Homo sapiens: one gene and its partner. The gene in region 2 interacts genetically with the main gene of each other region. Each region holds a gene or a part of one and is shown on either strand. Other genes may lie near its edges. The genes, in order: FABP4 and SLC16A8.

Region 1 (3,917 bases), on a different chromosome or scaffold from region 2:
GTCTGTTTTGAGTATACAAAAGTCACATTTCATAGCATTTGTTGCCAAGTCTACTTTTCTGTGCTTCTTTCTCAAATTACTCCACCATGAAATGAAGATTTTCATGAATTTCTACAAAAGGCAAAATGTTTCCTACATTTATAACATTTTAGAATGGTGATATCATTGCTAATAATTTATAGGGGATATTTAAAAGGGACTAGTCATCAAATTGTGAAAACTTTAACATTTAATAAATCACTATTTCTTAGTTTAAAATAGGTTAGAAGCCAATACTTTGATTTCCAGTCACCTAAGTTGTGAACTTTTCTTTCTTAAAAAGGGGAATATATTTTCTTGTGCAAGGTATGGAATGAATAATTTACAGCCTAACATAGCAGTAACTTGCTGACACTGTGTATGTCATGCAGAGTTTATGGCAGTCATAGATTTGCTGAATTTTTTAAACATGTGCATGTAAATCTAAGCTCTTTCTTTGACTAAAGGCAACCAAAGGTTAGAAATTGGGAAGAACTGGGAGAGATATATGGCGCAAAATAAGTAATGCTGAGGCTCCGATTTGGCTGTCTGTCTGAAAAATGGCCACAGGTGTGTCTTCATGTCCTGGCTCAGTTACAAAATATAACATTAAATGTATGAAGTGAGTCCACTTCGTGAATGCAGGCAAAACTGAGTGTGATTCTAGAATGACTGACCTTGGGAAAAACCAGTCTCCATTTGCTTGATTTTGCTTTTATTTGATGATGAAGACAATACCTGCCCACTCATCCTCAATTACAGCAGCTAATTTCATGCAGAAGGTGTTTTATTGACTTTAATTATAATCAGCCCTTTATAATTTAAAAACACAGTATTATTAGAAAATATAAATATTAAAAGTATAACATTTTTCTAAAAATAAATAGTTAAATGGCCCCAAATCCTGGCTTTTCTGCATCAGTGCATATTAATTAGTTTATTGAATCACTCTAGTTTATTCTAGAAAGTCTCTCTCATGCTGAAGTCACCAATTTCCCTATCATCTAAAAACAAGAAACATAGTTACAGACAAGCAAAAAAATATATACTGTATAATTTACAGGAGGGTTAAGTGTTTTGCGATTTAATGATTACATTCTAAACCCTAAGATTGCATAAAATTCCTCCCCAGTTTGCTAACCCCAGTTCTGACTTTATTGGACTGTCATGCATGGGGTTGAGGGAGAAAGGTTTTCAAAGTAGAAGCTGCCTGAGTGAGAAGTTGTCTTTTCTGATTTACCTCCATAGTTATCTGAGAGACATTCATCCAATGACATGCTGACAGTTAACAGCGTCTAAAAAATTAAAAACCTCTACTATCAAAGAAGAGGTATGTTATATGCGTAACATTCTCCTTTTAAATTGGTTGATAATTCTATGGCATACTATGTCATTTCTAGTCAAAGGAAGTATTTAAGCCATTTAAGAAACATATTTTCTGAAATTAAAATTTTTGTCTATCATAAAACAACCACATATTTTAATAGATTAACATTGAGACAAGAAAATAATTGGCTAACATACGGTTACTGAAAAAGAACCTTGCATTAAGGGAACTAGAGTGCTTTCAGTTTGAAATGAAAATTATTGCATACTAACTTTTTTCCAAGTTATTGCTTAATTTACATGCAAAAGGGGATGAAAGAGAAACAGGCAAAGAGCTAAGTAAACCAAGGATACCCAAGTTTTTCAAATAAAGTCAAATCTTATCATTTCTAAAGACAATAAACATTCCATTTAGACACCTTTTTATATTGGTACACCTTTAGGAAACATTAGTTGTAGCTTTGGTTCAGAATTTCTCTAGAAACAAATGATTATCACTTGCTATGTGTGCAGCCTCTCTATAGAAAGCAGCATTTTTCATTTCTGGCCAGGGCTTCCAGACATTGCTATAAACACAGCTGTAAACTCTTTTTCCCAAAAGAAAATATTATAAATCCAGTCATTCCACAACGCATTTCCTTACCTACTTCTTTCATATAATCATCAAAGTTTTCACTGGAGACAAGTTTCCAGGTACCTACAAAAGCATCACACATTTTGTGAGTTTTCTAGGATTATTCTTCAAGGTGAGAAGGAAGCTGCAGTTTTCAGGAGGGTGCTGTGACCCTCTTGAGTCCAGATAACTTCCTTTTAAAGATGCTCAGAACATGTGATCTTAGGAATGACCAATTGGGAATGAGATCCAATCATTTCCTTCATTACCGGCCTCTGCATTTTTTTCTCTGAGTCATGTTTTTAATAGAAATTTCTCAACTTTGGTTCTCCCTGGCAAATAGTCACTGGACTTAGAGTACAAATTATTTTTAAACCACTAACAGGATATTTTAAACATTCCTGTTTTGACAGCTTAATGCTCAGTGCACTGAATTTCCCCCTATTATTCCTATACATATTTATCCCAGTGTAGAGAGGGGAAATTATTTTGAGATAAACTTCGACCTTATTTTGTGTGTGTGTGTGGGGTGTTATTTAAATTGCAGTTATGTGGTTCTTTTGAATTGAGGAACATAAGAACTGCCTCGGAGATTCTTACATAATTGCAAAGGCTCTTCGGGACACTCCTGTCTCAGGAATTACCTGGCGATTAAAACAAAATAAATAATGGGATTTAAAAGTACTCCAGATTTCTGATTTCAAATGTTTTATATGAATAAAAAAGTACATTCAATTCATCCACCAGTAATCTGGACTGTAGATTTAATCGAAATGATAATTTAACCTCACTCTTTCCATCTCCTAAATGAGAGCATAGCATTGATTTCCACAGATCCTTTGAAAAATAGGCCTTATTCTAAAATACTTTCCTCATATTGAGAAACTGCATTCAATTTCTGAACTGTATTATAAGTTCTGAATTTATTCAGATCAGAAATGGTGTGTGGTCACAAGCTACCAAAACCAATATCCTTCTTTTATACAGTGACCAATCTGTGAAACTAGTTTTCTAAAGTAATCGTGGTTTTCAATTCCCTTTGCCTCATGCAAGAATGACAGAAGTTGTTCACATGTGCTGCAAATTCCCACGAACATACCCAGATTTAGGGGAAAAAAAGAAACTAAAATATTTCAGAGTGATGCATCGCTACACTGTGTATCCCACTGAACAGTACCTGCTGAGCATGTGATTGATTCACAAGCCTGTGTAAGTGTCCTGAGGGCTTCCCAAAAATGTTTGTGGCAGGAAATTCTGTAAGCAACAGGATTTTCTGTAGGAAAGCAAGTTGCTATGAAAGCCTGATAAAGTTAGGTTTTGCATTTGTTAATGGCACAGTAATAACGCTCATCTACTCTGGACTGTTGCATAGATACACAGACTGTGGTGATGTACCATCCAGGTAGGCTTGCTATTAGTGATCCACCTGTTTCCCATTGAATAAGACTGTTCAGATGGAAAGTAAATAAAAGTGACAAATCTTAATAGAGGGATGTTTTTGATAATGTTTTAAATTAATTTGCTTCCTACAGGTTTTTAAATGATTGAATTTGAATACATACTATGTGTATTCTAACACTGCAATTTGGTTTTTTAAAATTTTTGTTTCTATAGATTTCGGACTACATGTGCATTTTTGTTACATATGTATATTGAGTTGTAATAAAGTCTGGACTTTTAGTGTAATCATCACCCAAATAGTGTATATTGTACTCAATTGGTAATTTCTTTCTTTTTTTTTTTTTTTTTTGAGATGGAGTTTTGATTTTATTGTCCAGGCTGGAATGCAGTGGCGCGATCTTGGCTCACTGCAACCTCTGCCTCCCAGGTTCAAGCGATTCTCCTACCTCAGCCTCCCTAGTAGCGGGGATTACAGGTGCCCACCACATGCCTGGATAATTTTTTTTCTCATATTTTTAGTAGAGACAGGGTTTCGCCATGTTGGCCAGGCTGGTCTTGA
Region 2 (3,865 bases):
GTCCGGCCCCGCCGGCGCCTGCTGGACTTGGCAGTGTGCACCGACCGCGCCTTCGCCGTGTACGCCGTCACCAAGTTCCTGATGGCGCTCGGGCTCTTCGTCCCCGCCATCCTGCTGGTGAACTACGCCAAGGACGCGGGCGTGCCCGACACCGACGCCGCCTTCCTGCTGTCCATCGTGGGCTTCGTGGACATCGTGGCGCGCCCGGCGTGCGGCGCCCTGGCGGGCCTGGCGCGTCTGCGGCCGCACGTCCCGTATCTGTTCAGCCTGGCCCTGCTGGCCAATGGGCTCACAGACCTGAGCAGCGCACGCGCGCGCTCCTACGGCGCCCTCGTCGCCTTCTGCGTCGCCTTCGGCCTCTCCTACGGCATGGTGGGCGCGCTGCAGTTCGAGGTGCTCATGGCGGCTGTGGGCGCGCCCCGCTTCCCCAGTGCGCTGGGCCTGGTGTTGCTCGTGGAGGCCGCGGCTGTGCTCATCGGACCGCCCTCTGCCGGTGCGCCCCGAAGGAAGAGGGGGTGGCGAGCCTAGTGCCCCTTAGACCCAGGGAAGCTCCATCCCCCTGTCTCAGATGGAACTTCCAGGGATGAGGGGAAGGGGCAGTCGGGTGGGTGGACTCCCCTTCACGGCCAGTTAGTCCCTCCTCCAAGCCGGACCGCCCGCTCTGGGTGAGGACAGAAAAGCCCAGGAAGGTGCAGGGAAGAAAGCAACACTGGTAGCTGGCCAGATCTGCCATCCCAAGCAGTTGGCACAAGGCCATCTGGAGCGCAGGTGCTTATTCTCATTTTGCAGATGAGGAAACTGAGGCACAAAGCCTTAGCGCAAGTTGCAGCCCCAGAATGAGAGCCTCAGTGTACCTGCTGCTAAATGCCCACGCCTTTAGAATGGTGCATCTAGAATGGTGACTGGAATGGGGACAGTATCTTTGGGAAACTGGTGTTGGGGCCAGAAACAGAGTGGGGGTGCTCAGCGGGCAGATGGGGAGAAGCACTGGTGTCTTTCACTGTGCAGATGGCCTGCTGGCACTTGTCACCGTCACCCTTAGGAAGTCATCGTCATGAGGGTGGTCAGGGAAGGCTTCCTGGAATATCCCCCAGGTGAAGGCACAGCATGGATGGGCAGGGCTTGTTGGGGGGGAACAGCGTCCTTATGCAAGCAAGGCAGGAACCAAAATTGGAAAGGTGGGAGTGGGGGACATGAGGGTTTTCCTGGGTTGTCAAGTTATCTTGAAACAGCAAGGGAGCCTGCCTTTGAGTCCCAGAGGCTAGAGGGCTGTGAGATGGTGCAGTAACCAGGGAGGACACCTTGCGGGGGCCGCAGGCTGCACTGAGATGGGGTGAGCTGCTCGTCCTTCCTTCAGGGCTGGGCTAATCGAGTGCCCTCACTGAGCTCTGTCATCCCACCTGACCCAGTGAGAACGGCAAAGTCCCTGAGCCAGTGTGTGGGCAGGCCACAAAACCAGCCTGCCCAGGCCTCAAGGAACCGTCTTCCATTTCTTGTGTGAATCTGGATGGATCTGATGGGCAGAGGAGGTGCATGGGGTGAGGAGAATGACCTAGAGAGAGGGTGGAGCACACAGACAAACCACACTTTAGGGGGAAATACTTGCAATTAAGAGATTTTCCTGGTCGGGTGTAGTGGCTCATGCATGTAATCCCAGCGCTTTGGGGGGCTGAGGCCAGAAGTCTGAAACCAGCCGGGGCAACATGGCAAAACCCTGTCTCTACCAAAACAAAACAAAACAAAATTAGCTAGGTGTGGTGGCGTGCACCTCTGGTTCCAGCTACTCAGGAGGCTGAAGTGGGAGGATGGCTTGAGCCCAGGAGGTGGAGGTTGCAGTGAGCCAAGATGGCACCACTACATTCCAGCCTGGGCCAATGGAGTGAGACCCTGTCTCAAAAGAATAAGAAAATTCCTGAAGCCAGGTGCAGTGGTTCACACCTGTAATCCCAGCACTTTGAGAGGCCAAGTCGGGAGGATCCCTTGAGCTCAGGAGTTCAGGACCAGCCTGGGCAACACAGCAAGACCCCATCCCTAAAAAAAACATAATAAAAGAGAGACTTTCCTGAGTTTGAAAGTAGTATCTACAAGGGATAGAAGCCTTGAGAAATAGAGAAGGAAATGAGTTACTGGCCCACAAGCCCCACCTGTGCCGATGATGGCTTGGTCTGGGATGCTCATGGGCCTCCTGGGACAGAGGGGTGGGAGGACTAAGCCAAGCCCCTGAGGACCAGGGCATTTACATGGCAACAGCAAGAGGTGGAGGCCCCCAGGAGGGCAGAGCTAAGCCCAGGGCCCCCTCCCCGCTCCCACCCCAGATACCCCACTGCCAAGCAAGTCACAGGACACTTGTGGGGCTTGAATCAGAGGGTGGAGGGGACGCCTCACCAGAAGCCACATATCACTTAAGCAATTGAGGTCCAGGGACAGCAAGTGACATTTTTAAGGTTTCAAATGGCAGAATCCACATGAGGTTTTACATCTGTAAAACAGGAATAAAGAGTGGGCATGTGTGTGTCACCCAGGAGCCTCACCAAGTCAGTGGCACCACCCTTGACCTGAGAGTGCAGGAGAGTGAGGGGAGGACCCCACAGGACCTTACCTCTCCCTCCTCTTCCTCCTCCTCCCCAGGCCGCCTGGTGGATGTGTTGAAGAACTATGAGATCATCTTCTACCTGGCCGGCTCTGAGGTGGCCCTGGCTGGGGTCTTCATGGCTGTCGCCACCAACTGCTGCCTGCGTTGTGCTAAAGCTGCCCCGTCAGGCCCAGGCACTGAGGGCGGAGCCAGTGACACTGAGGACGCTGAGGCTGAAGGGGACTCTGAGCCCCTGCCTGTTGTTGCAGAGGAACCCGGCAACCTGGAGGCCCTGGAGGTGCTCAGCGCCCGGGGCGAGCCCACAGAACCAGAAATAGAGGCGAGGCCGAGGCTGGCTGCCGAGTCTGTATAACTCAGGGTGCTCTGGGTGGGGTGGCCCAGTGACTTGGGAACACAGCTTCTTGTCTCAGAGAGCCTGGTACGCTGGGAGGCTGGTCTGGGGTGGTCACTCCCGGGGTCCACGTCTGGGCTCCAGTTGATCCCCTGGGTGTCTGGGAACTGCCTCCCTCATCTGTGCCCCAAGTTCCGCCAGGCCCTGCCCCATCGCCAGTGAAGCTGCTATGGAGCAACAGGAAACTGGTGATAAAGCTCAGCTGAACGACAGAAGGTTCTATTCCTCCGCCCAGGCTCCGGCTGCCACCTGAGTTGGGGGTCAGGGTGGTGGGAGGGAGTCTGGGAGGTCTCTCTCCAGGCCCCCTAAGCAGGCTTCTAGGTGGGCAGTGTTGGGAGGAAGCGTCAGAGATGGATGAAGAGACCCATCGTTCCCAGGTGTAGAGACACAAGGGGCTGGGCGGGCACAGGGCTCAGGGGCACAGGGCTGGGTGGGCACAGTGCCTGGCTCCTGCCCAGCCCCACTGCTCAGAGCTGTCTGCTGAAGGCCCCCTCGCTGGCATCTGCCTTTTCCCGTGGAGGGAACGAGGGGTTGGCAGCAACTAGGGTTCAAGGTTGGGGTCTGCCTGCAGGCGGGGGGCCCGAGCGGTCTGAGAAGACTCACAGTTCCCAGGGTCAGGGTCGGTTTGAATCCCAGCCCCGCTGACTTCCTTGCTCACTGGAGGCTGAGCATACGACTCCGTCCCCTGGGGTCCTGGGGAGGGTGGGACCAGGCGCTCAGTAACACCATGGGCCCTGCTGCCTTCCACGAGGTGGCCATGTCCCCTCACCTTCCCAGAGGGCATCTCTCCCACTAGAGGATAAACTTGGGTGTCCAGGGCCAGGGGCTTTTGCTGTGGACACTGTGCTGGCAGCCAGGTCATCTGCTGATCCCAGCACCTG

The links.
Region 1: changes in SLC16A8 (region 2) and FABP4 together harm fitness more than expected from each alone (negative genetic interaction), as found in Homo sapiens cells (one large-scale study listed by BioGRID).

Annotation. Positions count from the first base shown.
Region 1 is NC_000008.11:81,481,108-81,485,024, forward strand, and holds the start of FABP4 (fatty acid-binding protein, adipocyte), read right to left. Parts: upstream 2,127-3,917; 5' UTR 2,061-2,126; coding exon 1,988-2,060; intron 1-1,987.
Region 2 is NC_000022.11:38,077,468-38,081,332, reverse strand, and holds the end of SLC16A8 (monocarboxylate transporter 3), read left to right. Parts: coding exon 1-493; intron 494-965; exon of another isoform or gene 966-1,720; intron 1,721-2,385; exon of another isoform or gene 2,386-2,479; intron 2,480-2,599; exon of another isoform or gene 2,600-2,628; coding exon 2,629-2,945; 3' UTR 2,946-3,196; downstream 3,197-3,865.